Linked DNA regions of Homo sapiens: all the other regions are reported to be linked to region 5. The links are microRNA targets in miRTarBase. Many come from high-throughput screens and were not tested one by one. Region 5 holds a microRNA gene; each other region holds the end of a gene's coding sequence.
Evidence for each region. Region 5 holds the annotated microRNA hsa-miR-1307-3p (ACUCGGCGUGGCGUCGGUCGUG, at 3,675-3,696, shown strand). A microRNA usually pairs through its seed, bases 2 to 8, with sites in the 3' UTR of a target mRNA and lowers its output. Matches are read on the target gene's strand: a 7mer-m8 pairs with bases 2 to 8, a 7mer-A1 pairs with bases 2 to 7 and ends in A, and an 8mer does both.

Region 1: the mRNA of CIC is a reported target of hsa-miR-1307-3p. Seed matches in the 3' UTR shown: 7mer-A1 at 3,222-3,228.
Region 2: miRTarBase lists GLYAT as a target of hsa-miR-1307-3p. The part of its 3' UTR that is shown has no 7-base or 8-base seed match.
Region 3: miRTarBase lists ATG14 as a target of hsa-miR-1307-3p. Seed matches in the 3' UTR shown: 7mer-A1 at 3,450-3,456.
Region 4: the mRNA of GSTM3 is a reported target of hsa-miR-1307-3p. Seed matches in the 3' UTR shown: 7mer-A1 at 2,278-2,284.
Region 6: the mRNA of BTN3A2 is a reported target of hsa-miR-1307-3p. Seed matches in the 3' UTR shown: 7mer-A1 at 2,232-2,238.

What each region holds. Positions count from the first base shown.
Region 1 is chr19:42,294,983-42,298,982 of GRCh38, reverse strand. CIC (capicua transcriptional repressor) reads right to left here. Exons shown (of 21, transcript NM_001386298.1): 21 at 3,187-4,000. The coding sequence ends at 3,792. It overlaps PAFAH1B3 (platelet activating factor acetylhydrolase 1b catalytic subunit 3), which reads left to right. Exons shown (of 5, transcript NM_002573.4): 5 at 1,618-1,948. The coding sequence ends at 1,905. Among named protein-coding and RNA genes, the nearest start is that of PRR19, 5.1 kb to the left of the region's middle. RefSeq lists an enhancer at 3,165-3,234.
Region 2 is chr11:58,706,194-58,710,193 of GRCh38, reverse strand. It overlaps GLYAT (glycine-N-acyltransferase), which reads left to right. Exons shown (of 6, transcript NM_201648.3): 6 at 26-1,437. The coding sequence ends at 428. Among named protein-coding and RNA genes, the nearest start is that of GLYAT, 24 kb to the left of the region's middle.
Region 3 is chr14:55,364,837-55,370,094 of GRCh38, forward strand. It overlaps ATG14 (autophagy related 14), which reads right to left. Exons shown (of 10, transcript NM_014924.5): 10 at 1,555-5,089. The coding sequence ends at 4,783. It also overlaps a transcript of FBXO34 not described here. Among named protein-coding and RNA genes, the nearest start is that of ATG14, 44 kb to the right of the region's middle.
Region 4 is chr1:109,732,700-109,737,991 of GRCh38, reverse strand. It overlaps GSTM3 (glutathione S-transferase mu 3), which reads left to right. Exons shown (of 9, transcript NM_000849.5): 7 at 241-336; 8 at 425-535; 9 at 823-4,055. The coding sequence ends at 921. Among named protein-coding and RNA genes, the nearest start is that of GSTM3, 5.7 kb to the left of the region's middle.
Region 5 is chr10:103,392,705-103,397,996 of GRCh38, reverse strand. MIR1307 (microRNA 1307) reads left to right here and starts at 3,596; the gene lies at 3,596-3,744. It overlaps ATP5MK (ATP synthase membrane subunit k), which reads left to right and starts at 1,522. Exons shown (of 5, transcript NM_001206427.2): 1 at 1,522-1,588; 2 at 1,965-2,251. PDCD11 (programmed cell death 11) reads right to left here and starts at 1,371. Exons shown (of 36, transcript NM_014976.2): 1 at 1,267-1,371. RefSeq lists enhancers at 1-385, 386-887, 1,545-1,794, 1,945-2,034, 1,427-2,259.
Region 6 is chr6:26,373,105-26,378,396 of GRCh38, reverse strand. It overlaps BTN3A2 (butyrophilin subfamily 3 member A2), which reads right to left. Exons shown (of 11, transcript NM_007047.5): 7 at 5,101-5,121; 8 at 4,984-5,010; 9 at 4,024-4,070; 10 at 3,599-3,626; 11 at 85-2,600. The coding sequence ends at 4,030. Among named protein-coding and RNA genes, the nearest start is that of BTN2A2, 7.4 kb to the left of the region's middle.

The sequences.
Region 1 (4,000 bases), not on the chromosome of region 5:
AATTAGCCGGGCGTGGTGGCAGGCGTCTGTAGTCCCAGCTACTTGGGAGGCTGAGGCAGGAGAATGGCATGAACCCGGGGGGCGGAGCTTGCAGTGAGCCGAGATTGTGCCACTGCACTCCAGCCTGGGCAACAGAGCAAGACTCCATCTCAAAAAAAAAAAGAATTAGCTGGGTATGATGGTGCGCAAAACCTGTAACCCCAGCTACTTGGGAGGCTAAAGGAGAAGGATCACTTGAGCCCAGGAATTCAAGGTAACAGTGAGCTGTGATCATGCTACTGCACTCTCGCCCGGGTGACAGAGACCCTGTCTCACCAGAAAACAAAAGAAAAACCCTCAAAAAACCTTGAATAGGCCAAAAGTTGTCAGGCATTCCTGGGGTAAATCTAGGCTCCATCACTTGTAGGTAGCTAGGATATTTCCTCTTCTGAAAACGGATTGATCCCTTGGCATGAGCCATGATGTTGATATCTTTTATTTATTTATTTATTTTGGGACAGAGTCTTGCTCTGTTGCCAGGCCAGAGTGCAGTGACGCAATCTGGCCTCACTGCAACCTCCTCCTCCTGGGTTCAAGTGATTCTCCTGCCTCAGCCTTCACAGTAGCTGAGACTGCAGGCGCGTGCCACCACACCTGGCTAATTTTTGTATTTTTAGTAGAGATGGCATTTCACCATGTTGGCCGGGCTGGCCTCAAACTCCTGACCTCAAGTGATCCACCCGTCTCAGCCTCCCAAAGTGCTGGGATTACAGGCGTGAGCAACCTCCCTTGGCCTATTTATTTTTTGAGACAGGATCTGGCTCTGTTGCCCAGGCTGGAGTGCGGTGGCATGATCTCAGCTCACTGCAACTTCTGCTTCCAGGGCTCAAGTGATTCTCCCACGTCAGCCTCCCGAGTAGCTGGGACTACAGGCACACGCCATCATGTCCCACTAATTTTTGTGTATTTTTGTTAGAGATGGGGTTTCACCATGTTGCCCAGGTTGGTCTCGAACTCCTGGGCTCAAGCGACCTATCCAGCTCTGCCTCCCATCATGCTGGGATTACAGGCGTGAGCCACTGAACCTAGCCAATGTCAACATTTTTCTAAGTGATACTTGGAAAGAGGCTAGGCCGCGCATGGTGGCTCACGCCTGTAATCCCAGCACTTTGGGAGGCCGAGGCGGGCGGATCATGAAGTCAGGAGATCGAGACCATCCTGGCTAACACGGTGAAACCCCGTCTCTAATAAAAATACAAAAAATTAGCCGGGCATGATGGTGGGTGCCCGTAGTCCCAGCTACTTGGGAGGCTGAGGCAGGAGAATGGCGTGAACCTGGGAGGCGGAGCTTGCAGTGAGTCGAGATCGCGCCACTGCACTCCAGTCTGGGCGACAGAGCAAGACTCTGTCTCAAAAAAAAAAAAAAAAGAAAACGAAAGAGGGTAAAACCCAGAAGTCTCTTGCTAAATGAGGGCTAGGATGTGATATTTAGGAACTACCCTCCCACCCTCCCCACTTGCCCATCCCTAGTGTTTTCTGCAGCTGGAAACTTCATGGTGGTGGGTGGAGGACAGGTTGGCACAGAGAACAAGATACTCAAATGCTTGTTTCCTTACTACGCCTCGTGTTCCTGCTCAGGGCCTGCTTCCGCGAGGCCAACATCCCAACCCACTTCGGGAGAAGAACCGACAGGTGAACGAGCTGGTACGGGCGGCACTGGCTGGCCACCCTCGGGCCCACTTCCTAGATGCCGACCCTGGCTTTGTGCACTCAGATGGCACCATCAGCCATCATGACATGTATGATTACCTGCATCTGAGCCGCCTGGGCTACACACCTGTTTGCCGGGCTCTGCACTCCCTGCTTCTGCGTCTGCTGGCCCAAGACCAGGGCCAAGGTGCTCCCCTGCTGGAGCCCGCACCCTAAGCATCCTGCTGCCTTCCCACAACATTAAACTCTCCTTCCTCAGTGTGCTGTTTCCTGCTTTATGGTCGAACCTGTCTGGGTATCTGGGTACCACCATTAGTCCTTATCCTGATCTGTGACCCTGCAGTTCTGCAAGGTGTTTTTTGTGTGAGACAGGGTCTCTCTCCGTCACCCAGGCTAGAGTACAGTGGTGAGACCACAGCCCACTGCAACTTCAACCTCCCAGGCTCAAGTGATCCACCCACCTCAGCCTCCTGAATAGCTGCTACTATAAGCATGTGCCACTAGGTCCAGCTTATTGTATTTTTTGTAGAGAAGTGGTTTTGCCATGTTGCCCAGGCTGATCTGACTCCTGAGCTCAAGCAATCCACCTGCCTCGGCCTCCCAGGGTGCTGGCATTACAGACATGAGCCACCATGCCTGGCTGTGGTTCTATTTCTGCCCAGGGCAGGTATCACTGATCCATTAAGGCACTGTGATTCTTGTGGTTAGGTTAATTTCCACTATCACAATAGTGTGCTTCAGGCAGGCGTTACCAATCAGTAAACACTAGTTAAGACCAGCTTTCCAGCACTATCCTACAGGACCAAGCTCAGGCAAGAATTCTGGGAACATAGTGACCCAGTGCATATGCGGTTGCCCTGGCTGGAACTTCCTGGTGCTCCATCTCTAGCTTAGATGCCACTTCTGTGGAGGTGTCCTGACCCTCCCACTCCTAGTTGTCATCCCTCCACACAGGGTGTAGGTATCTTGTCACCTCAGGTGGGCACTGTGTCCACATGCTGAGCAGGAGGGGTGTCACCCAGGGGAGGTTCCTTCAAGCCCAGTTGCAGTGCAGGCCCAGGCCACATGGGGGCAGCAGGGGTCACACTGAGGACCAAGGGTATTCCAGGTAGACTAGGCTCCCTCCCACCCACTGCCACCTCTGGGCTAGGACCTCTTGGGACCTGTTTCCTGAGTACGAATGACCCCAGAGCCAGTGAGGGTAAACCATCCAGTGGCATCTTGCCTCAGGCCTTCCCCAAACTCACGCAGTCCAATGGCTGAGAACAGGGCCAGCAGGCATTGAGGCTCCCGGAGCGCACAGGCTCCTAAACTGGAGAGGGGCCATCTGGTCCACAGCAAGTCAGGGACCTGGCCTATGGGGTTCCTCTGAAGTTGGGGGCAGTGGTACTGGAATTGTTGCCCCCACCTCATGGAAAGCCTACCGCTCCATGACAACTCAGGACAGGACTGGTACAACCAACAGCCCTCCCTGTTAAGAGCCTACAGCCACACAGGTGTGTTAAACAGCTTTAATCTCGCTCATTGCGGCTTCTCGGCACAGTAAGAAATATTGCACATGATCAACATGTTTTGTTCTGGGGAAGGGGGCAAGGGCAGGGGGAATCACCTTCTTAGAAAGTACAACCCAAGTTGGGAGGGCAGAGGGGGTGAGGAGAAAACCCTCCCCGTGCCTGTGGCAAAGTGCAGGAGCCCCCACCCCCAAACTAACCTGAGTCCAGCCCCTCTGGGGAAAAAAGGGGTGCATGAACTCCCCCTATTCCACAGGCGCCTCCCTGTGGCCCAAGGCCTGCACCACCCTCCAGCTTGCAGCCCTCACAGGAGCCATTTTGCATAAAGTGAAAAGCTCTGAAGGTCACACGCTCCAGGTTATGTACAGGGGCTTGGAGGAGGGAGACTGCCCCTGCAGCCCCTCAGCTGCCCCCCAGCACCGGGAGGGAGCTTCGAGGGAAGGGGGTATTTACAAGAGGAGCAGGCCTCATTCCGCCCCAAACTGGAGAGGACGAAATGGCTTTACCCGGGAGGAGATAACCTTCCTGCCCCCACATACTGTCCATGTCCTGAGGGGGTACTATAAGTCCTGGCATCTTCTCAGGGGTCCCTCACCTGCCTGTGGCAGCTGTGGAGGGACCTGGGGGTGGGGGGGAGGGCTGGGGAGCCCCCTCCCAGCCAGGCTGTCCAGGCCCCGACTCTGGGGGTGGAGGCAGTGGCGGGGCAGCCTGGGCCGTGCCAGAGTCCGAGCTGGGTGAGGTGGGGTCAGGGCCCCCTGCGGGGCTGGGAGTGGGGGCAGGGGCAGCAGCGGTGCCAGTGG
Region 2 (4,000 bases), not on the chromosome of region 5:
TGTTTTCTTCTTGGACCCTCCATAGCAACCAAGAGATGTTTAAACTCTCATCCATGGATGTTACCCATGCTCACTTGGTGAATAAATTCTGGCATTTTGGTGGTAATGAGAGGAGCCAGAGATTCATTGAGCGCTGCATTCAGACCTTTCCCACCTGCTGTCTCCTGGGGCCTGAGGGGACCCCTGTGTGCTGGGATCTAATGGACCAGACTGGAGAGATGAGAATGGCAGGCACCTTGCCGGAATACCGGCTCCATGGCCTTGTGACGTATGTCATCTATTCCCACGCCCAGAAATTGGGCAAACTTGGGTTTCCTGTCTATTCTCATGTAGACTACAGCAATGAAGCTATGCAAAAAATGAGTTACACACTGCAACATGTTCCCATTCCCAGAAGCTGGAACCAGTGGAACTGTGTACCTCTGTGATGCCAATCCTGAACATAAGACAGTGTTGGGCAGGTCTGGGCGTATAATTTGAGGAGTGGATGGTGGATGAAAAGAAATAATAAATTGTAATCAGCAGTAAAGGAGTGGGCACTGTTTGGACTCTGGGGAAGCAGTGTGATGTTCAACAGCATCGCCATGGTCCCTGCATTCACAGGTTTCTCAGTGGGAAGCAGGCCCAGGTCCTCTTACATTTGACATAAGCAATTTACCTCCCCACATTTCCAGGACCTCTATGACACTTCATCAGATACATATTGCTCCAAATTACTTCTCCTGGAATCCCTGGTTCCTCAGTTGCAAGACCCTTGCCAGTTTTTCTGGGAGCTAGGAAGAGGTGAATTAAATTTTCTGAGCACTATGACTTCTTTCTTTCTAAAGCCTTTCCCTTATGATCAACAAGTGGACTCTCCTCAGCAGGTCTTTAGAGATTATCCTCTCCTGTTATTGCTACTTTATAGGTACATTAAATATACTGGACACAAATATATATGGGATATTAGGCTAAATACAGTATACATGATATAGCAGGGAATGTTACTAGAAGAAATATCAACTGATGATATCCTATCCTCTCCAAGCTCCTATTCCAGGAAAAAAGATCCAATGTTTTTTCTAAAGATGAGCTTCCAAAACCCACAACTCCTAAATAATACAGAAAGTTTTGTGTTTGACTGTATACAATTTTTATTGTGTTTGTTCAAGCTAAGTGGTTCATCATGGTGACAGCATGAAAGGAATGAGTGTATGAAAAGGTGAAGGTGGGAGCACCTTGACCCAGGGATGTGATGGTTTATTGAGGAGAGATAGGAGTTGAAGGGAGAGGAGACAGCATGAACACCTGCTTGTCCAATTAGCCTCAGCACATTACTAATCTCAGTTTGTTCCTGCTGTAACAAAATACCTGAGACTGGGTAATTCATAAATAACAGTCTGAACTTATTTGTTTATTTAAAATAATAATAAAATAATTAAAAATTTATTTATCACAGTTCTGGAGGCTGGAAGTCTAAAATCATGGTGCCAGCAGATTTGGTGTCTGTGAGAATCCAGTCCCTGCTTCCAAGGTGGTGCATTATTGCTGTGTTATTTGTAGGGGATGAACACTGTGTCCTCACATGGCAGAAAGACAGAAGAGCAAAAAGGAGCCCAGCTAATTTCCTCCAGTCCTTTTTCCTTCAGGCACAAATCCCATCCATAAGGGTGGACGTTCTTGTGGCCTAATTATCTCTTAAAGACTATCTCTTAATACTGTTACATTGAGGATTAAGTTTCAACATGAATTTTGGAGGAAACACAAACATTCCAATTATAGCATTACTTCAGAATGCCTGAACTCTATTAAAAGTTTAGATAATTGTCTCAAACAAGAGTCAGTTGAGGGGGAACAAGAGAGATAATCTTTCAGGTTGCAACAGGTTAGGACAGCTTTCTATTTTTTTTTTCTTTTTTTGAGACAGAGTTTCGTGCTGTCACCCAGTCTGGAGTGCAGTGGCATGATTTTGGCTCACTGCAGCTTCCACCTCTCAGGTTCCAGCGATTCTCCTGTTTCAGCCTCCAGGGTAGCTGGGATTACAGGCATGTGCTATTGTACCGAGCTATTTTTTGTATTTTTAGTAGAGATGGGGTTTAACCATGTTGGCCAGTCTGGTCTAGAACTCCTGTGAAAGGGGAACAATAAATGTTAATCACCTACAGATTGTGTTTGCTCCAGGCTTTCGGCATTGTGCTTGTGCTGAATAAAAGCAAGCAGCTCCAGCTTCTCAGGGCTGCATTCTGGCCACTTGAGCCAGGCAGTTACCTAGCTGCTCTTACACTGCATATCTGTGTCTGAGTACTCATTTCATCCATCAGTTGTCTGTCCCACAGACCCAGCATTGAATGTTTAACCTATTCCCAGACATCTTGGAGGCTTTGTTCATTGTTAAAAATTCTTTGTTCTTTGCCTTTGACATATTGGGTTATTCGAAAGCCTTGTCTTCAAGCTCTGAAATTCTTTCTTCTGCTTGTTCAATTCTATTGCTGAGATTTTCCAGTGCATTTTGCACTTCTCTAAGTGTGTCCCTGATTTCCAGAAGTTGTGATTGTTTTTTATTTATGCTATCTATTTCACTGAAGAATTTTCCTTTCATATTATGTATCGTGTTTTTTATTTCTTTCTCTGGTGTCTCCTTGATTAGCTTAATTATTGACCTCTGAATTCTTTTTCTGGAAATTCGGGGATTTTGCCTTTGTTTGGATCCATTGCTGGTGAGCTGGTATAATCTTTTGGGGGTGTTAAAGAACCCTGTTTTGTCATATTACCAGAATTGTTTTTCTGGTTCCTTCTCATTTGGGTAGACTATGTCAGAGGGAAGATCTGGGATTCAAGAGCTGCTGTTCATATTCTTTCGTCCCATGGGGTGCTCCTTTGATGTAGCATTCTCCCCCTTCCCCTGGGAATGGGGTTTCCTGAGAGCCAAACTGTAGTGATTGTTTTTGCTCTTCTGAGTCTAGCCACCCAGTGGAGCTACCAGGCTCCAGCCTGGTACTGAGGAGTGTCTGCAAAGAGTCCTCTGGTGTGAACTGTCTTCCAGTCTTGCAGCTATAGATACCAGCACCTGCTTCAGTGGAGGTGGCAGGGTAGTGAAGTGGACTCTGTGAGGGTCGTTGGTTGTTTTTGTTTAGTGCACTCATTTTGTGTTGGTTGGCCTCCAGCCAGGAGGTGGCACTTTCAAGAGCACATTAGCTGCAGTTCTATAGGGAGGATGCAAACTTGCCCTAGGGACACCTGGTTAAGTATTCAGGTTTCTCAGGTGGTGGTCAAGGCCATAGAGCTCTCAAGAGATTATGAGAGCTCTCATAATCTTGTCTTTGGCTACCAGTGTGGTTAGAGAAAGACCACCAGGTGGAGGCAGGGATAGGCATGTCTGAGCTCAGCCTCCCCTTGGGCAGGGCTTGCTGTAACTGCTACTAGGGATGAAGGTGTAGTTCTCAGTCCAATGGAGTTATATTACCAAGAGGATTATGGCTGCCTCTGTTGAATCATACAGGTCACCAGGGAAGAAGCCAGCAGTCATAGGCCTCACCCCACTCTCTGCAACCCACAGTCCCAAAGGCTGGTCTCACTCCCACCATGCCCCCCAACAGCACCAAGTCTATTTCCAGGTAGCCAGTTACCAGGACTCAGAGCTTGCCCCAGACCACAAGCCTCCCCATTGAGAAAGCAAACAGACTCACTGTTTTTCAGTGTCTCAGGGAGCCTGCAGAGGTAATCCAGTTTCTTCAAATGGTCTGTGGATTCTCTCAGCTTTCCTGGTATGTACCCACGGTAGTTCTTGGAGCAGAATTTCAGGATGTGAGTCTTCATACACGGCTCTGTCCATCCGAGTGGGAGCTGCAAGCTAGTCCTGCCCCCTATCTGCCATCTTAATCTCAATTCCTAGGTTGTTAATTTGAGATCTTGCTAACTTTTTGCTGTAGGCAGTCAGTGCTATAAACTTTCCTCTTAACACTGCTTTGGCTGTATCCCAGAGGTTTTGGTATGTTTTGTCTCTATTTTCATTAGTTTCAAA
Region 3 (5,258 bases), not on the chromosome of region 5:
TGTGATCCTCCCAGCTCAACCTCCTGAGTACCTGGGACCACAGATGCACACGACCATGCCTGGCTAATTTTTCAATTTTTGTAGAAATGGGGTCTCACTGGCTGGGCGCAGTGGCTCACGCCCGTAATCTCAGCACTTCTTTGGGAGGCCGAGGCGAGCAGATCACGAGATCAGGAGATTGAGACCATCCTGGCTAATGTGGTGAAACCCCATCTCTACTTTAAAAAAAAAAAAAAAAAAAAGCCAGGTGTGGTGGCAGACACCTGCCTCAGGAGGCTGAGGCAGAATGGTGTGAACCTGGGAGGCAGAGCTTGCAGTGAGCCGAGATCGTGCCACTACACTGCAGCCTGGGCAACAAAGTGAGACTCTATCATCTCTTCTATCATCTCAAAAAAAAAAAAAAAAAAAACAAAAATGGGGTCTCACTATGTTGCGCAAGTTGGCCTTGAACTTCTGAGCTCAAACAATCCTCCTGCCTTTGGCCTCCTAAAGTGCTGGGATTTCAGGCATGAACCACTGTGCCCCGCCCTAAAAAAAATTCACTTCAACTATCTAAGCACTGGAAAATACTCTTTGCAGTGTATTTTCTTACCAAGTCGGCTGGTGGTGGTTTTCCTCATTGAATTTCAAGGCTGAGGTGCAGATGGCTTGCCCAAGAGTCCAGTTTCAAGTTTTCTGGTACATTTTATTGATGCAACTTTTAAATAATCTCCCCACTACCAATGACAAAGTTATCCTTAATTCCTCCCAATCTGTTTCCTGCATCAATCATGACATAACTCAGGATGGAGAAATCTCCCTTTAAACACCAGATGGGAGCATGCTTTAAACTGCTGCCTGGAAAGACTGAAGGACAGTACCACCAAAGCACACACCCTGTTCGAGAACCCTTCCGTTTCCTTGCCTATTTCCTCCTGTTGCCTGCCAGCCTTCTGCTCCAGATAAAGGGGCAGTATGACCATGGCAATAGCTCCTGAGGGTATCCTGGCTGGCCTGGCTCTTCCACAGTAGTCACTCTTGGTATCTTCTCCACCACCTGCAGGTGGTCCTTCTCTACAATAATCTAATCTGAAGGGTACCGCCGACTACCCACCTGGGAGAAATTAGTTATAAAAAATAAGGGTGTTGGGTTGGGGAGGGATTCTCCAAAGCTACTCAGGCATCTGAGTGGTTCCAACATTTCCCTTTTCCTCTTGTCCTGAAGAAAGTCTGGGCAGGTTCCACGTGGGCATCCTAGAGGCCTTCTGCCCCAGGGGTCTGTTGCACAAAACCAGGTCATTGTAGGTCACATGCATCAAATGATGGCTACCAAAGAAAAACACGTCTTTAGGGAAAGTATGCAACCAGCTTCTCAGCTTGGGAAAGATCATTGTTAATACCACCATAATCCATAATTTTAAAAAATATATTAACATTTTTTCTTACCTGGCAAAAAAATTCTACAAACTTCTTCTATAATTTGTATAAAGTACTCCAGGGTTCAATCTCATTCTTGCTACCCTCGATGCAGCAGTGCAAATGAACAGTTTGAAAAAGACATACACATGAGCAAAGTACTGTTAAAAGATTTATTGCAGTAATACAATAAAAGTTTAGAAAACATTTGTATGACTCAAACTGGTTTGGAAGTTGCAGAGCAATGGGGAATTCCTGCAACATGATACTGTGAGGAGATTCTCGGACACTAGTCCTCTAACAGCATGCCACTGAATGCTCTTCCCCAAATTGAGTCCTTACATGAGTCCCGTCCACTCTACCCAATGGTGATATACTGTTTTTCCCCCTTACAGATGTGCAAAACTTTTCTTATATTCCATAACCAAAAAATGTCTTTAACAGACCATTTTAAGCAGCCTGTTTGGTGCCTGTGGGTTTTTATTAGTATTACTTTGTTTCAGTAAATCATTTTAAAATGGAAAACATGACCAAGTTCTATGGCTTTTTGTTTAAACAAAATACCAGCTTCAATTTTTTAAAAAGCTGTTTACATATGGTTCTGGCACCTACATGAAAGATTTTAATGAGCAGCAAAAAGAGTAGAAAAAACAGTGGTTGAAATGTATACTTAAGAGTATTTACAGGGTGGATCCAGTGCAAAATAATGAAACCCAAAATATTTCAGCAGTGTAAGCCAGTATGTTGGTGTTCAAAACCACAAAAGGGTTCGATCACTTAACCCTATGTAAAGTGCCTCTAGTTGATATTAACAACAACAAACAAAATATATCCTATCCATAAAGTTCCCACATCTTTGTAAATTTTGTGGAAGTACTCTAGATGAGTTTGTGATCTCTGGATTCTATTCTTTAGCTTCATCTCTCATTCATGGTTTCATAAGAGGCTTAAGAAAACCATGACTGTTGTGCATCTCTCAGCTGAAGTCAGTCTCCACCACCAAGCTCCAAATCCCACTCTTACAACTCGTGAGACTAAGCTCTTACTTCTGAGGGTTTTAAGTAGCTAGACAACTCTTACAAGATCGTTAAGTTTATTTATCTGTTCAAGTCTACCATCTTCACTCTCTACGAACTCCAGAACTGGATGGGAAAATGGAAGCCCAGCAATCAATCATGAAGCTGAGCACTTAAAACAGAGATCCCAGCAGTGTAGAAGAACCCATAAGGGGCCGGGCGCGGTGGCTCAGGCCTGTAATCCTAGCACTTTAGGAGGCCAAGGCAAGCGGATCACCTGAAGTCAGGAGTTCAAGACCAGCCTGGCCAACATGGTGAAAACCCCCGTCTTTACTAAAATACAAAAATTAGCTGGGCATGATGGCAGGTGCCTATAATCCCAGCTACTCGGGAGGTTGAGATGGAAGAATTGCTTGAACCCAGGAGATGGTGGTTGCAGTGAGCGGAGATGGTGCCACTACACTCCAGCCTGGGCAGCTGAGTGAGACTCCGTCTCCAAAAAAAAAAAAGACCACCCACAACGAGAAAAGCCTACTTCCTCCTTTCATGGAAAATTCATAGAGCCAAGGAATTTGTGACTACCGGATAGAAATAAACTCCGTTCTGCAACTCTACCCAAAACTATACAAAACACCAAATATACCATTAGCAAAAGCTATATAGCACCTCGGACTTGGAGGCAAAGTATCAACTACAATTATTATGATGAGAAAAGAAGCTGGGGCATGGCAAACCTCTGAATGATTTATCAGAGGTGCTATCATGCCAATCACATAAGATATGGTAATAATGCCTGTTAGGACTCTTTCATAGGATTTCTTTTGGTAGTTGTTACATAGGATTTTTTTGCAGTTATTAAAAATAAACTACTTACATATTTGTACATAATGCCTCTCTCATTATAGTTTTCTTGTAAGATTGTCACTAAAAGAATGACAAGACACGTGAGCTGAAAATGATCTCCTGCTGAGGGAAATTCTTTTTTTTTTTGAGACGGAGTTTCGCTCTTGTTGCCCAGGCTGGAGTGCAATGGCACAATCTCGGCTCACTGCAACCTCTGCCTCCCGGTTCAAGCGATTCTCCTGCCGCAGCCTCCCGAGTAGCTGGGATTACAGGCGTGCGCCACCACACCCGGTAATTTTTTGTATTTTTAGTAGAAACAGGGTTTCACCATGTTAGCCAGGCTGCTCTCAAACTCCTGACCTCAAGTGATCCGCCTGCCTCGGCCTCCTAAAGTGCTGGGATTACAGGCGTGAGCCACTGCGCCTGGCTGGGAAATTCTTTCTTTATATTGTGCTTTCCCCAGAACAGAGCAGAGTAGCATCAGCCGTAAGGATCTGCGCTGCATTTCTGAGCAAAGCTGTGTCCTCAGAGCAACAAAGAGTTCGGGGAAACAAGTAGGATGGTTTCCCCTGAAAACACCTGCCACCTACTCAATCCCATAGAAAGAAAGTGGACACCACAAGAATGACCAGAGGCCACTTAACTAAGTGGCTTTTCCCCTGTGCCCAGGCAGGCATTGAGCTTACATAAGGGAATGACCTTCATGACTTATTTTCACCCAGAAAATATAAGTTCAATTTCAAAATGCTCATAGTGTGGATGGCAGGAATTCAACTAGGTAAGAATAAGCTTAATTCCCCTCAGAATACAAGAAAATAGTTAAAAACTCTCTAGACATTATTGCAGCCAGGATTTCTTCCATTTATGGATGTGGGTCCTAAAGAAAAAGACTTTCATTTTCTTTGGTGTGTGGGGGAAAGAAAAACAGGAATGTCTGACAAACTACGACAGAGCAGCATGAATAAAATACGTGTAACTCACCCCTCCCAAACAAAATCAAAGGACCAAATTAGAAATTTTAAATTGCCTGCTGGTTCTCATACAAAAAACAATGGCAGAAAAACTCTTATTAAAGAGCTTTTATCTTTCATGTCCTAATAATCAAGAATCACCTCTTGTGATTCAACCAACCTCTAAAACTTAAAGTGTCAGGAACAGTCTCAGCACCGCAAGGACCAGCACACTGACCCATATCTGTGGGCCCGGTGGCCCGGGCCCAGAGGGAACCCAAATCAACTGCTTCCTTGGCAGAACTGGCCACACGCACAGGTCCTCCTTCCACCAGCACTGGTCTGGGTAGAAAGACCTTCGACCCCTGTTCTCTTAATTATCATAAGCATGTTGGTCACCATCACAGGCCACTTGGCAAATAGAAATGTTTGTCTCCCTGCTTAAAAAGACAAAACAAAACAACACTTTAACCTCTTTGTTCCAGACACTATCTTAACTTAAACAGAAAATGTTTACTAGAGTGTAGTGGGAGAAGAACTTTCTTGATGCAGATTTGGTATGTTTTGGTCCATGCTCGTTAACGGTGTCCAGTGTAAGCTTTAAACCAGGAGGTCACCGAGGCTGCTGCAGAGGAGATCATCCCACCTGCACTGCTGCTCGCGATGGGTGGGGACGCCTGGGTGCTCTGACTCTGGGAGACTTCCACAGACTGGGAAGGGATATCACAAAACCGGGGACTAGGCAAGTTCTCCCAGTCTGTGCCCAGGTCGGTTTCTTCATCGCTGACGCGCTCATCTCCGCTCTCATCTGATTCTCCAGCAACTCCGGGATCCACAAATTCCATGGACTCCTCAAGGTCTGCTCGTACTTCAAAGGGCCCTGACCTGTGTGCAGACAATGAGGGTCTCTTTAGGATAACAACCATTCTCAACACCAGAAAATATGCCATCTTCCTGAAGGCCCTCACCTGAGGGGATGAGGGACGCCGCACACCCCATTCATTCCCCAAGTCTATGCAGCACTCCGTGTTGACATATGATTGCGTTTTCCTTT
Region 4 (5,292 bases), not on the chromosome of region 5:
CCCACCAATCCAGATTGTTAGAATAAGAAACAGAACTTATATTTTTTGGTTTGTTTTGTCATGTAATTCTGGTGCTGGTGCCTCTTCTTTCTAAACTCCTCTTTCCCCACCCTGCCATCCTCAAGTGAAGGCAATGAGAACCCACCTAGAGAAGGGGCTACTAAGTGTCCATCACTGGCCTGTGCCCTGATTAACTACAAAGATGATCACCACTATTCTCATTCTGTTTTTTCCTCTCAGGAAAAACTGAAGCCTCAGTACTTGGAAGAGCTACCTGGACAACTGAAACAATTCTCCATGTTTCTGGGGAAATTCTCATGGTTTGCCGGGGAAAAGGTAGGAAGAAGGGAAAAGAAGAGGATACTTCTCTATCTCTGCAGGCTACTACTCCTCAGACCTAAGCATCTTATTGCTTTTCTTCTAGCTCACCTTTGTGGATTTTCTCACCTATGATATCTTGGATCAGAACCGTATATTTGACCCCAAGTGCCTGGATGAGTTCCCAAACCTGAAGGCTTTCATGTGCCGTTTTGAGGTGACGTTTCCTGCACCTTTCTCTTATAAAAACACTCACAGGCTCCCCTGGGACCTGCAGGATCCCATAGTGGAGGATTCTTCCCCGGCTTTTGCCTAATGGGATCAATGGTTGGACACCTCTAGACCTTTAAGTCTTGGGAAGAGCCTAACTTCTATACCTTGGAGGCACTGTCTACAAAAAAATGGAGGAGGTAGACGCAGGCAACACGTGAATGTTGCTGTTCTGGTATGCATCTGTTGGACTGGGTTGGGGTCGTTATAAGATTTGGTGTATTTTCCTTTCAGGCTTTGGAGAAAATCGCTGCCTACTTACAGTCTGATCAGTTCTGCAAGATGCCCATCAACAACAAGATGGCCCAGTGGGGCAACAAGCCTGTATGCTGAGCAGGAGGCAGACTTGCAGAGCTTGTTTTGTTTCATCCTGTCCGTAAGGGGTCAGCGCTCTTGCTTTGCTCTTTTCAATGAATAGCACTTATGTTACTGGTGTCCAGCTGAGTTTCTCTTGGGTATAAAGGCTAAAAGGGAAAAAGGATATGTGGAGAATCATCAAGATATGAATTGAATCGCTGCGATACTGGCATTTCCCTACTCCCCAACTGAGTTCAAGGGCTGTAGGTTCATGCCCAAGCCCTGAGAGTGGGTACTAGAAAAAACGAGATTGCACAGTTGGAGAGAGCAGGTGTGTTAAATGGGACTGGAGTCCCTGTGAAGACTGGGTGAGGATAACACAAGTAAAACTGTGGTACTGATGGACTTAACCGGAGTTCGGAAACCGTCCTGTGTACACATGGGAGTTTAGTGTGATAAAGGCAGTATTTCAGACTGGTGGGCTAGCCAATAGAGTTGGGACAATTGCTTACTCATTAAAAATAATAGAGCCCCACTTGACACTATTCACTAAAATTAATCTGGAATTTAAGGCCCAACATTAAACACAAAGCTGTTGAAATATTGATGAAAATGTAAGAATTTTTGTGACCACGGGGTAGGAGAAGTTTCTTTAAAGACGTAAAAAGAAAAAAACCATAGGCTGCTCTGCCTGTGGAGTAGCCATTCTTTATTCTTTTACTTTTTAAAATAATAACAATCACAAAGGAAAGATTTGCCAATTGAATAGGATCAAATTCTACAACTTTTCCTAAGGCACCCACAAATAAATGACAAGTGAGACAAAAAGCACTAGTATAAAGATTATATAAAGACCTATAAATCATTAAGACAACTGAGTTTTTAAAAATGGACAAAATCCATGAACAATTTATAAAATAGAAATATAGCCAAAAATGTCTAAAAGATGTTTATGATGTAAGGAATTATCAATTACAACAGTGAGAAACCATATTTCCTTCTATCCGATGAGTAAAAAGTTTCTAAAGTGTTGGCAAGGCTTAGGAAAGTGATATGCATTTCCTGCTGGTCAAGTTGTAAATTAGTATAGCTACTTTGGAGGACAATTGTAAAATTTAAATCATATCCTATGACCCAGCAATTCCATGCTATAAAAACTCATCCATGGCCGGGCTTGGTGGCTCACGCCTGTAATCCCAGCACTTTGGGAGGCTGAGGTGGGCAGATCACGAGGTCAAGAGATCGAGACCATCCTGGCCAACATGATGAAACCCCGTTTCTACTAAAAATACAAAAATTAGCTGGGCATGGTGGCATGTGCCTATAGTCCCAGCTACTCAGGAGGCTGAGGCAGGAGAATTGCTTGAACCTGGGAGGCAGAGGTTGCAGTGAGCCGAGATCACGCCACTGCACTCCAGCCTGGCTACAGGGCGAGACTCTGTCTCAAAAAAAAAAAAAAAAAAAAAAAAAAAACATTCAAAGAGACATATACTAAGATGTTCACTGTGGCATTGTCTGTAATGACAAATAAGTGGAAACCGTGTAAATACCTGTCAATACTATGGAGTACCATGTGGCAACGGAAGAATGAGACTGAACTGTGTGAACTAACATGCAAAGATCCCCAAAACAGGCCAGGTGTGGTTGCTCACAGCTGTAATAACAACACCTTCAGAGGCTGAGGTGAGAGGATCAGTTGAGGCCAGGAGTTTAAGACCAGCCTGGGCAACATAGTGAGACCCCTGTCTCCCAAAAATTTTTTTTAATTAGCTGTGCGCAATTGCTCATGCATAGTCCCAGCTACCCAGGAGGCTGAGGTGGGAGGATCACTTGAGCCCAGGAATTTGAAGCTGCAGTGAGCTGTGTTCTTGCCACTGCACTCCAATCTGGGTGACTGAGCAAGACCCTGTCTCTTAAAAAAATAAAAAAGATCTCCAAGCATAGAGAAGAGTCTGGAGGGAAACACCAAACTCATAACAGTCTTACTGCAGGCAAGTGGGATAAAGGCCCAGACTCCATGGTGGAAGTTAAAGGGCATTTCCAAGTTAAGGCTAAGACTTGCTTTTCTAACTAAGAGAATGTGCTCATGCATTGCTTGTGTAGTAGAAACTAGTTTTTAGAAAAGAAAGCAAACTTAAGAAACACTGACTCCTGTGGAGATGACTTGGCACCACTCTCCTTTCACAGAGCAGAGTCTGAATAGTCTTCAGAGATAGGCCTGTGGGCCAGATTGCCATCCCCTATGGACCAGAAGCCAAGGATCTCTCTAGTGATGGTCAGAGGGCCCAAATGGCAGGGATACCCAGTGATGTCAGGAGGAATAGTACAGACAGAAGGTGCTAAGCAGACAATTCAACTGCCATGTTTTGCCACCCCCTGTGAGCAGGGATTAGGTGTTCAGGCCAGTATCTTGGGCATGGGGGAGCCTTTGGCCAGAAGAGGTATAAAGCTCAGAAGTTTTTCAGTCTGATAACTATTGATATAATTTCCATAGTGTGAGGGAGCGGTATGCTCTACCCTTGTGTATTTAAGGCAGGACAGAGAAATTGAGGATGCCCCTGGGGCTAGATCGATGATATGACCAGAAATCAAAAAGGGAATGCATTATTTATTGCTGTGTAACACTGTTAAGAGAGGAGGTAGTTAAGGGATGGATAGGCACATAGAGAGGGAAGGTCTCAGGAGAAGGGATAGAAAGGAACTATGTTCACAAGAACAACGGCAAGACAGTGCCTATACTGCCTCTACAGTTAATAGGAAAAACGGAAGAAGTTACCCTTAAGCTAGGATGTTGCTCAGAAGTGACCATCCCAACTTTGGTGCGGGCACAATAAATCAGCCTAAATGTCCCTAATTTAACCCAGCTCATTATAATGTCATTAAACATGACATTAGCATTGTGGTTTTAGCACCCCCATGGGTTTTGCTTAGGCACTCATGGGTAATAACCAAGATGGAGTCCCTTTGGCAAAACTTAGGCATGCACAGCTGTAGTACCCCAAGAAGAAAATGTTACTTCTCTCATCTGGGCAAAACCCACAGAAGACTTCCCAGCTTCTGCCACATAAAAGACACAGAACACAGACGCCTTACTGGCAACCTGCTTTCAAGACCCCTGTCTTTGCTGAGAGCTTTCCTTTTTCCCAATAAATTCTACTCTGCCCTACTCACTCTCCATGTCCATGTGCCTAATTTTTCGTGGTCATGGGACAATAGCCTGAACCTTGCCATACTCCAGGGGCAAAAGAAGACTTCTACACTATTCCCACAAATTTAGCAGCTAAAACAATACATGTTTATGGTCTCAAAGTTTTGTGGATTAGGAGTCTGGGCACAGCTGAACTGGGTCCTCTGCTCAGGGTTTCATCTGAAAACTGCCATCAGTGTGTCATCCAGAGCTCTGATCTCATCCCCAGGCTCAGTGGGAGAAGGATCTGCCTCCAAGTCTGTGTAATTGTTGATAGCGTCAGTTCTTTGTTCCCTGTGGGACAGAGGCCCTCCATTTCTCATTGGCTGTCGGCTAGAGCCACCTTCAGTTCCTTGCAAAAGGGATCTCCTCAACACGGCCACCCATTTCACCAAAGCTAGTAAAGGAGTCTGCTGGAAGAAGGAACACTACAGTCCTATGTAATCTGATCACAGCAGTGACATCCCATCACCTGTTCTTATTCTATTAGAAGCAAGTCACCGGCCCCACCCACACTCAAGGGCATGAGTACCAGGAGGTAGGATCATGGGGGCCATCTTAGAGTCTGTTCACCACAAGAGAAGAAGGAAGGAAACAGGAGATTGGTCCTGCAGTCCTATGAGAAAAAAATCCTGGGAAAGACAGATGACAGGAGAAAGCAGCAAGGTAGGGAATGAGCAATTTGCAAGGGAGAAGTTTAAAAAGCCCAGGTCTGCAGGTGAAATGTATTTCACATGAATTCCAGATGGACAGATCACATAGGCAAATCACGTTTCAATTTTTTTTAATTATTATGTTTGTTAGTGAAAATCCACTCAACAGTTATGCAAAACCTGGACCTTACTGGCCCAGAAAGCAGGGAAGGCCACTGAGAGGAACAGATCCTTTCCACAAGAGAGGTGGATCCCCAGTTCTCAATCAGCTCCCAGCTCTAACTCTAATATAGGCCAAGAAAAGAATGCCGTAACAACGGCTGCCTTCAGGCAAGTGGCAGATGCAGGGGGGTGGCTGGGGACACATCCAAGGCACAGAGGCACAATAGTGATGGCTTTATACAAGTACCATCAGTAAGGGCTTAAAAGAAAACTTGAAACAGGTGCATTAGATTTGGTGGAGCAGTTCCCCAAAAGTATCAGGGAAATTCATTTGTATTCATTGTTGAAGGTTGAGCAACTGGGCGTTTCTAGTTCAGAAAGAAATAGCTTATGTGATTAAATGAA
Region 5 (5,292 bases):
GGCAATGTAGGAAGGGATAAGTAAAGGAGGCAAGCTTCATAAAGAAGATCTTTTTTAGCTTAAGGGTAAAAGATGAACAGAAGCTTGACAGGTAGAAAGGGAATGTGAGAAAAGACATGGATGGGAAAAGCCTATTATTTCAATAAACACCAGCAATTTCCCTATCAAACAACTGCTCAAAGGCTTGCTGTTGTCTCTGAGGAATTATTCAACTAGACCACTGGGAGATTAAAGCATAAAAATTGAAGTTAAATTTTAAAGAAGGCCGGGCACCATGGCTCACACCTGTAATGCCAGCACTTCGGGAGCCCGAGGCGCGTGGATCATCTGAGGTCAGGAGTTCGAGACCAGCATAGTCAACATGGCGAAACCCCGTCTCTACCAAAAACGCAAAAATTAGCCGGGCGTGGTGGCCTGCGCCTAGTCCCAGCTACTAGGCAGGCTGAAGCGTGAGAATTGCTTGAGGCCGGGAGGCGGAGGTTGCAGTGAGCTGAGATCATGCCGCCGCACTCCAACCTGGGAGACAAAGTGAGACTCTGTCTCAAAAAAATTAAAGGAGAAGTTGGGCTTTTTTGTGGAAGACCTTGAATTAGATATGGGTAGTTTGCTTTGGCAAGTCAGAGACTTAAGCAGGGAAAGCGAGAGAACAGTAAGCAAGAAAAATATACTGCAGGCTATAGATTGGACATGAAGAGAGACAGTATTGAAGGCAAGTAAATTCGGTAGAAGGATTCAAATGCACTGTTTCCTGTTATCTCAGTGACAGAAAAAAAAAAAAAAAAAAAGGATTCAAATGCAGTACAGCAGAGAAACCATGAGAACCAGAACTGGGTATAAGTGAAAACAGAAGACAGGAGAGGTTAGTTCTGACAGACACTTGGTAATAAGACTCTACAAGGGCTTTAGACTAAAGAAGTGATGACCGGGTGGGGCCAAGGATATGGAATCAGGGATGGGTATATGATTCATAGAAACAGGAAAGTTTGGGGGGTCTAGTTTGCTGATAATTTCACCCTTAATTTCCTTTCAAGCAAGGGGAAACTGAGGCTCTGAAAAGTAAGGCGATCCAGGGGCACAGAAGATACTTAGGCTACTTTCCGAACACAAAGCCTGGGGTTACAGGGGCTGCTACAACAGAGCCGGCTTCGAAGCGGGGCTAAGGTGGCCGAACCACACTCATCTAGCGTGTGCCTGGCAGGGAACCAGGCCTGGGACAGACCTGACAGCCATGAGGTTTCCTCCTTTTTCGCCTCTGCCTTTACTCACCAGCGCCACGGCGTCTGCACCCAGCTACCACTAACCTCGCGCCGCGGTACTCACACACGCGGAGACCAGGATACCCACAGTCCAGTGCAATTCTTCCGGAAGTGTGGGCGGGCTCAACACCCTACTTCCGTTGCTGTGTTGCGGAGGTGACCTAGAGACAGGAATCGGAAGGGCGGGATTTGGAGCCATAGCCAATCGTCGCATTAGGCCGAATCGCGGGGGCCGGCTAAACGCGTGCGGGGGAGGTGGCTTCTTCCGGCCGGGCCGAGAGGTGGTTACATTCGTTGAAGGACACCAGCTGCGGAATTTGCGGCTTTGGCAGGTGGGTGAAGAGGGGAGTCCGGGCTTGGACCTGGCGCCTGCACGTTGCAGGACCGCCCGCCGTTTCTGGCCGAGGAGCAACTCGAGTTCTTAGCTTTGGAGGAGAGAAACGGTGGGGAATGGGAAAGGAGCTAGAAAAAACGAGGGGCGCAAGGGGGCGGCCAGCGGGTGAGAAGCCTCGAGGTGAGGCGGATAGGTGCGCCCAAGGGCTCCCACAGTTTCCGAAGACCCTTAGATTGCATTCGCCAGTGGAGAAAAATGAGGCCCTCCGCGAAGCGTCCCTCGAGGTCACCCAGTGACGTAATATTGGACGAGGACTAGGGCTTCTGATCCCCATCACCGGCCGAATTAACCTCTTTTCTTCTGTATGTCCATAGCTGTTTGTTCCCACCGAGCTGTGCTTTAGGAAGCTGGCCAGCCGGGCCTCCTTTAGGTGCGCTGCAGCCTTTTTCAAAGCGAGTGAATGTGGCCCGGCCCCTACAGTTCGCCAGGCCCGCTGTAAAAGGGTTAGATTTCAGTCTATAGACGATCAGTGGGAAGGCCTTTCCTAGGAGGTAACCAGAACAGAGAGCTGTAAACTCCGTGAATGCAAGAGGCTGCTTCTGTTACCTGAGTGGTTCTCACTCATCTTTGCCTTCCTTACCTCGTGATCTCACCATTCCAGGTAGGTGTTAAGTTAGAAAGGAAAATAGCAATATCGAGGAACAGAGAAAGTAACAAGAGCTACTGGTCACTTTGGACCTTTAATAAAGTGCCCATCTCACAGGTGGAGAGAGGCACGGAAGGATTAGTTACATTTAAGAGCAGTTAGTGGCCGGGCGCGGTGGCTCACGCCTGTAATCCCAGCACTTTGGGAGGCCGAGGCGGGTAGATCACCTGAGGTCCAGAGTTCGAGACCAGCCTGAGTAGTATGGTGAAACCCCGTCCCTACCAACAATACAAAAATTAGCCGGGCGTGGTGGCGCGCGCCTGTAGTTCCAGCTACTCGGGAGGCTGAGGCAGGAGAACCGCTTGACCCCGGGAAGCGGAGATTGCAGTGAGCTGAGATCGCGCCACTGCACTCCAGCCTGGACGACAGAGCGAGACCTTGTCTCAAGAAGGGCAGTTAGCAACTTAATTAAAACATACCACCGTTTAACAACATTAAATCACAACTAGGAGTCTTACAAAGGGCACTGTAAACACAAGGGTTCCTTTATCTTTGCCCTAAAGTAACCTGCACCGTGCTGAAGAGTGCAGAACCAAATTTTTCGACCTTACTCCATTATCTCACCAGCAACAATCCCGTTCCCCATTTGGCCCTCCATTTGAGCCTCTCAAGAGTCCTCCTCCTTTAAGACCCAGACTAACTTGAGTGATTGATTTCAGTTCTTGAACCATGCACTTCCCTGCAATCAGAATTAGTCTTCTGTGGGATATCACAAAACATCAGCCTTCCTCCCATATTGTGTGTAAATTAAAGGGAAATTTAAAGCGCTGTAGTATTGTTGGGCATATCCTCCTAAAAAGTTTAGTTAGATGTAATGTAGTGGAGGTTTTCGTTAATGGTCAAAGTGAAGCCCTTATTTTCTGTAGCGTTTCTCCTAAAAACCTACTTCAAACCCTAAGAAGTGAATCCAAAAATGTATCATGAAATGAATGGAGCTGGTGGGGGGGCGGGGGGCGGGGGGAAGTATGTCTTTAGTAAGTTTAGTAAAGTGGAACAGTTGATAGCTACATTATAAAGTTGCTTTTATCGCTTCTGTTGGCTAAGATCAAGTGTATAAAGTTATTTTTAATGGAGATTTTCCTACTTGGGCTAGACTGGCCAAGGTCTCTGAAGAGGCCTAAGGAAGTTTGGATTTCCTTCATTGCTCCAAGAACCTTCTTGAAACTTGAAAATTAAGGTCATTTTTCTCAAATTTTCATTGCCAATTCTTTACACAAGAATGCCTCTGAAAGCCTTTGAATGGGGGAGTTCCAGTTTCCATAGTAATGACTCCCTGACAGATATCTCCCTCTTCCATTTCATCAAGACCCAGCTGAGTCACTGTCACTGCCTACCAATCTCGACCGGACCTCGACCGGCTCGTCTGTGTTGCCAATCGACTCGGCGTGGCGTCGGTCGTGGTAGATAGGCGGTCATGCATACGAATTTTCAGCTCTTGTTCTGGTGACCTTTTGAATACGTCTTGTCTATAAAAGAAATTCATGCCTTTGTAAAATACACAGGTACTATAGATTAAGCTGCCTTTGCTATATATTCTTCCAGAGTTTTTTTTAATACACTTACTATTTTTCTATTTCATTTACTGCAGTATTTTTCAAACTTTAGCATGCTTTAGAATTATCTAGAAGCCTTATTAAAATAGATTCCTGGACCCAGAGTTTCTGATTCAATAGGTAGGGCCTAAGAATTTGCACTAACAAGTTTCCAGTGATGCTAATGCTGCTGGTCTAGGGACAAGACCCAGAACCATTGACGTGCTTTATAAAATCCAGAAATAAGATTTTTTCTTACAAAATTGAACGTTACTTGGGACATCTTCCCATGTCAGTACACAAAGATCTGTGCCTGTTGTGTGTCGTTTAATGGAAACCATCATTTTTTAATCAGTCTTCTATAGATGGACTTTTAAGATTTTCATAAACAGTATTTCATTGACCATCTTTGAACCACACAATGTGTTTCCACTTTGTAATATTTCAATAAGGGTAAATTCCTGGAGAAAAACACCAGCTAGATGAAAGGGTATACTCATTTTATAATTCGATAAGATACTGCCAACTTGCACTTTCTGAAGGTTGTACCAGTTTATTTATTTTTTATTTATTTATTTTTTTTTTTTTTGAGACGGCGTCTCGCTCTGTCGCCCAGGCTGGAGTGCAGTGGCGCAATCTAGGCTCACTGCAAGCTCCGCCTCCCAGGTTCATGCCATTCTCCTGCCTCAGCCTCCCGAGTAGCTGGGACTACAGGCGCCCACCACCACGCCCGGCTAATTTTTTGTATTTTTAGTAGAGACAGGGTTTCACCGTGTTAGCCAGGATGGTCTCGATCTCCTGACCTCGCATCCACCCGCCTTGGCCTCCCAAAGTGCTGGGATTACAGGCATGAGCCACCGTGCCAGGCTGGTTTTACCAGTTTATACTCCAAGCAACAGAGAGAGAATTCTTAGTTTTCTCACATACTTAATACTACTACTTACCATAATTTTATTTTTGCTTGTTTGATGATTAAATATTGATCTCATTTTACATTTCTTTGACTAATAGGTTTTATGTTTTTTTTGGTTTTTGGCTTTTTTTCTTAATATTTTCCCTTCCCTGAGATGACTTAAATATTTCCCCATGTTTTCTTCCAGGACTTTTTGGTTTCACTATTTACATTTAAATCTTTTATCTATTTTGGTGGTGGTGCAAGGATTCCAGCTTCCTTACTACCACCAGTAGCTATTATTAACTCCATTTAATAAATTATCCCTTCTCCCTTCTCCCATGGAGGTCCTAAATTACTTATAACAAGAAAAATTGTATAAGTAGGGGTTGTAATTGAGCTGTTTAGTTGATGGTCACCCGTTGAATGTTTGAAAAATACCAGCTCCAATTTTTGAGTAGCCTTAAAATGGATTAATTCAATGGACTGTGGTGTGATGGAGCCAGGAATGAAAATATTAAGCTGTATTGGGTCAGAGAATGAACTTAGCAGGGGCTATTGTGTGATTTGAT
Region 6 (5,292 bases), not on the chromosome of region 5:
AAACTGTGGGGAGTACAGTGGGTATGTAGACTACTCTACTGTGCTGAGTAGACACCACAGTCTAGAAAAAACCAAGTTGAAGAGTCAGCATTATTAACAAATTTATTGAACAACTAGAACTTGACAAGCACTTGCCCAGTAGAGGGGATACAGTGGTGAGCAATAATAGTGATGATAATGAGGAGCAGTTTTCCCTAGCAGGCAGCAGTTGAAAGGAATATGGGTTTAACATCCACCAATGACCAGGAGTGGACAGATCCTTTTCCAGGAGACTGAGTCCATAGTGGGATTAAAAACATCCCTGTAATTCTTCTAGCTTCCTTCATCCAAATTACCAATATTACAGAGAATCTCTAGGGTATTTGCTCTGCCTGGAAACCTTGACTGAAGGAAGGCTGGCTCTGGCTGCACGATCACTTATCACATTTGTTGGGTGGGAACACATCTGTGCCCCATTATTAACTGAGTGTGGCCTCTAGTCTCTTTCAAAGTCACATGCCCTGTGGGAACTGCAACGTTATTCTCTCAACCAAGACACTCTGCAGAGCCAATCCAAGGAGTGCTGGGTCTAAGGCTCTGATAATCAGCTGGGAAGGAGTCCATAGGGGTCTTAACTCCACAACCACTCACAGTGATCTCGATCCTGGAGCTGTCCTGGGAAGGGAACCTCAGGGCTACATGTGGGCTCTTCCCATGCAGGAAAAATCAGGCTGGAAAAGAACGGGCAATTGGCCAGGGACTGAAGCTGAACATCTCCCAACTGCACAAATTACCGTGTGAGTTATGTAAGCTACTTAATGTTGCCCTGCCTCTGCTTCCATACTTGCCAAATGAGACTACCTGACAGGGTGTTGTGAGGATTAAAGGAGTGACACCCACCAAAGCTCATAACACAGCACTCAGAACGTTTTAAATTCTCCATTAATGTTAGTCATTGTTGTTCAGATCCCAGCTCTGTTGTTCACTATTCCTGTCTGCTTTGTAAAGTCAATACACTTTTCTACACCCCAGTTTCCTTATCTGTATAAAGGGGCCAATAAGGTGGCACCAAACTCAAACAACTGTCCTATGGAATAATTGAATGAATATCAGTAAAGTGCTTCAGTGTGTGCCTGTAGCTTTATGGTTCTGACTGGCTGTTGTGGAGGGTGAGACCCTTAGCTCCAGGCTGGGCAGGGAGAAGCAGAGATGTTACTTCAGCCTGAGGCTCCCCACTTTCATTAGCTAAGCCTGGGGTCAGTGGTATCTCCAGGGAATGATCAGGCACTAGGTCGGGATCGGGGGAACTCTCTACTTTTGGTATTGGGCAAACGGTCAGGGCAGTGGGCTCCAAGGTCAAAATTCTGAATACAGGATACAGAGGCTCAGAGGAAGAGGCGTGCAGAAATGTGTAGATATGAGATCCATCCGTGGCATTGTAGAACGAGATATGTCCAGTCTCATAGTCCAGGATGACCCCCACTTTCCTAGGAGGCTCAGGAAGTTTCAGGTTGGTTCTGGGCTCAGTGAGAGCCCGATACTTATTCCCATCAGTCAGGCCCATAGTCCAGTATCCGTTCTCCGGTGTCATTTTGACCCAAACTTTTTTCCTCTCCACGTTCTTACTACATACCCCAATATGCCACTCTTTTCTGTCCCCCACTTCCACCTCCCAGTAGTGTCTCTCTGACATGAAGCTTTCACAGCCAAGCACACAGTAACGCCATTCAAATCTCTCAGGGTTGTCTGGTAGGTCATGGGGCTCCTCAGCACGCTGTACACTCCTCTGGTCCTCAGAAACAAGGAGGATGGCATTTGCCATGTCTGGATACAGAATTACATCTGCTGCAGAGAGTTTGAGGAGGTGTCCATGGGGTCAGCCATTTTTCCTGGATTTAAGAGCCACAGCATGCAAGGCTTGGGCCATGCTGAGGAGGTCCTTCCAGAACCCCGTGTCCCTAGCCTGCCCTGAATGTGATTCTCTCATCAATGTCATTGGTGAAAGCCCCAGGGGTCTAGTGACCAGAGGGGAAATGAAAGTAAGGTCAGTATCTGCCTAACCCAATACCCTGATGCGGCCCCAAGAAGCAACAAGGATCCTCTTTCTACATTTTTGTTGTTTCCCTCCCCACATTGATTCTGCCCACTGATGCTTTATACTCAGAGGTTAATTTTCTTTTCTTTTTTTTTTTTTTTTTTTTTCTTGAGACAGAGTCTCGCTCTGTCTCCCAGGCTGGAGTGCAGTGGCGTGATCTCGGCTCACTGCAAGCTCTGCCTTCCGGGTTCATGCCATTCTCCTGCCTCAGCCTCCCGAGTAGCTGGGACTACAGGTGCCCGTCACCATGCCCGGCTAATTTTTTATTTTTTGTATTTTTAGTAGAGACGGGGTTTCACCGTGTTAGCCAGGATGGTCTTGATCTCCTGACCTTGTGATCCGCCCTCCTCAGCCTTCCAAAGTGCTAGGATTACAGGCATGAGCTGCTGTGCTGGCCCTCAGAGGTTAATTTTCAATCTTCACTCGACCACTCGTGAGCTAAATGAGTTCCCCTTTTCTGCAGTCTATTTTTCCATACATCCAATTTATTTAACAAGGTGGAGCCTCATCTGAAGCATTTCCTCACCTGAAAAATGGGGATAAACATATGAATCTCTAGCGCTGTAGAAGGCAATCATATTATTTACTCAGCCCACAGCAGGCCATGAAGGAAGCTCCTCATCTTCCTGATAGCTGCAAGGCCGTCTCTGTGCTGGGCTCTGTGTGGGGCCTTATATGCCCTAGATTCACTCTCCAGCCTTCAGCTTTCTCCACCCTCTTCTGGACCCCAGGAATCTGTCCTCTATGGACAGTGCCACTGGGCTCCCTTGTCCTCTGGTTTGCTGCTGTGTTTGGCCAATGGGAGGCCCTGATAGAAGATTAGAAGGAGAAAGAAAGGAGATACACACCGTTTAATTTCCTGCTTCCTCCCTGCCAGCAGCAGCTGGTGGTGCTCTAACAAGGCCCGAGGACTCTTCTCAGGAAGCTCCCTCGTTAAGCTACCTCTTTCTCTGGGTTCCAGTAATTGCCTCCCCTTTTTAGCCCTCCCAGGCTAGGGGTGGAGACAGCTCCCCACTGTTGGGAACCATGGGGGCACTGCACTTTTCCTTGTTGCTTTCCCTTAACCCTTCTTTCTGGAAACCTTGTCCAACTACCCAGTTTGAGCTCACCATCTATTTCTTGCTAGGTTTCTGCCAAGCATGTTCATTATTCCTTCAGTCTTCACCTCAACCCCCATGAAAAACAGATTGCAATCATCATCTAAAAATGTGGAGGCCAAAGCTTGGAAGCATTAAATCCTTTGAGGAGATACAGGCAGTAGGTGGCATGAGAAGCCTGGGAAGGACAAAGTTCTTTGGGCAGGCATCACCTCCTCTCCTTGGCATTTCCATCCTCACTCTCCCTGCAGTATTACTCAGTGTGTGTCTCCTTCCCTTCACCTCCACCCTTTATGCGTCTTCCTACCCACGAAGGAAGTCAAGGGAACTTTTCTGCTCCAAATCACAAGAGTTGGAGAAGAAAAAAGGAAAAAGGAATATAGTCCCTCAGGTTGTTGGTCCAGGGAACATGCAGTGATTTACTCACCAGGCTTGAAGAGGGCCATTTTTCCATTCTGAAAGGAAGGAGACACAGATAAGAAAAAGGTCAGTATTTTTGTACTTTTCCCACTCCATTCTCCTCTCACTACATGTTTTCTCTCCTTTTCTTTAGAGTCTCTTCCAGGGTCCAGCTTCCCTCCTCTACAGCTCTGATGGATCAGAGGTGGCACCTTCTCAAAAATGTCAGGCTTGGCTCCCTGTGTCATGGGGGGTGCAGGATGCATGGCCAGGCTTTACAAGGGGGTGTGCAGGATCAGGAGTTTCTCAGAGGCTCCAGAAAAGCGGAGGTGAACCCCCACCACACAGAAATTGAGTCTTTAGATTAGATCTAATTAATCCAGCTGAGAACATCCACGGGTCACAGTGGAGAAAAAGTTGAAATATTCAGGGCATGTGACCCAGCAAACTTACAGAGCATCAGGCTGACTTATTGGTATCGGACGAAGACTCCTCTCCACCTACAATGAAAGAAAGGTAGAGGTGTCACCAGAACTCTGCCTTTTCTGTGTTGGCCCCTTCCCCTTCTTTTTGCATCCATCTAGTCTTTTTTTTTTTTTTTTTTTTTTTTTTTTTTTTTTTTTTTACCATCCCACCCTTCCCCATGGTCTCCATCTTCAGGTACAATTCTTTCTTCACCTCTTCTTAATATCAAGTCTGGGAACATCGGTTGAACGCTAGTGGCAGGGCAGGCACTGTGAGAGTTCCTTCCCAATGGGGTCCAGCTCATCTGTTTTGAATGTGTACCTGGGCATAGGTGTCACCATGTCTATATGTGTATGCCTAGGAGTACAAGATTCATCCTTCTCAATCTGTATCATTTCGTACCTTGCTCTAAAAAGAATTTGGGAAATTTAATGAGCAATTTCAGGGACTAGTTTTTGAAAGCAGTTATGATCTATCTGTACCAACTGAGCCACTGTAGCTACTCCTCTTTATTAGACACACTTTTCTCCCTCCCTCTCTCTTTTCTGATTTTCTTATTTCTTAAATCTTCCATTCTTGTTTTCCTTTCAACAGCCTCTAGATTATGGGAAACAACAAGTAAGTTTCCTGCCATAGAAAATGCACCTCATCCTTCTCTTCCCTCTTCCTTTTGAAGTGTACCCCTGGATATTCCTCAGTGCTTTTTAGAGCTTAAGGGTCTGTAGCCCCTAGTACAAAGAGATTGAAGACCTCTTTTTTTTTTTTTTTTTTTTCTAGAGAGAAAAAGCACTGGGTGGTTTCTCCAAAGAGCCACACTTGTTTTCTTTTTCTGGGTAAAGGGATCCAAGACCACTTTTCAACCCTGGGCTATGACTTATGGGCTGGAAAATAATGAAGCAGAGAGAGAGTAACAGATTTGAATTCAGAGAAAATGTCAAAGCCACTCACGAGTCAAGTACTGGATTTTTTTCCTCTCTGCAATGGAATGAACAGGGAAGAGTCATCAAGGTGCTCAAAGCGAGGATAGGAAGACATGTCTGGATCTCTGGGGGAATGGTAACTTACTGAGTTCCTCCTGGAGGCTCTCTGGAAAATAACCAAAAAAAAAAAAAAAAAAAAAAAAAGATGAACTGTTATGGGTGAGGTTGGTGTTTCGGGAAATAAACCTTAAACATGATGCAGTGCCAGGGTAGGGGAGAGAGGTGAGGTTTTCAGGCTGGGGCATGCAAGCCAAGAGCTTAGATTCTCTGCTTGCGT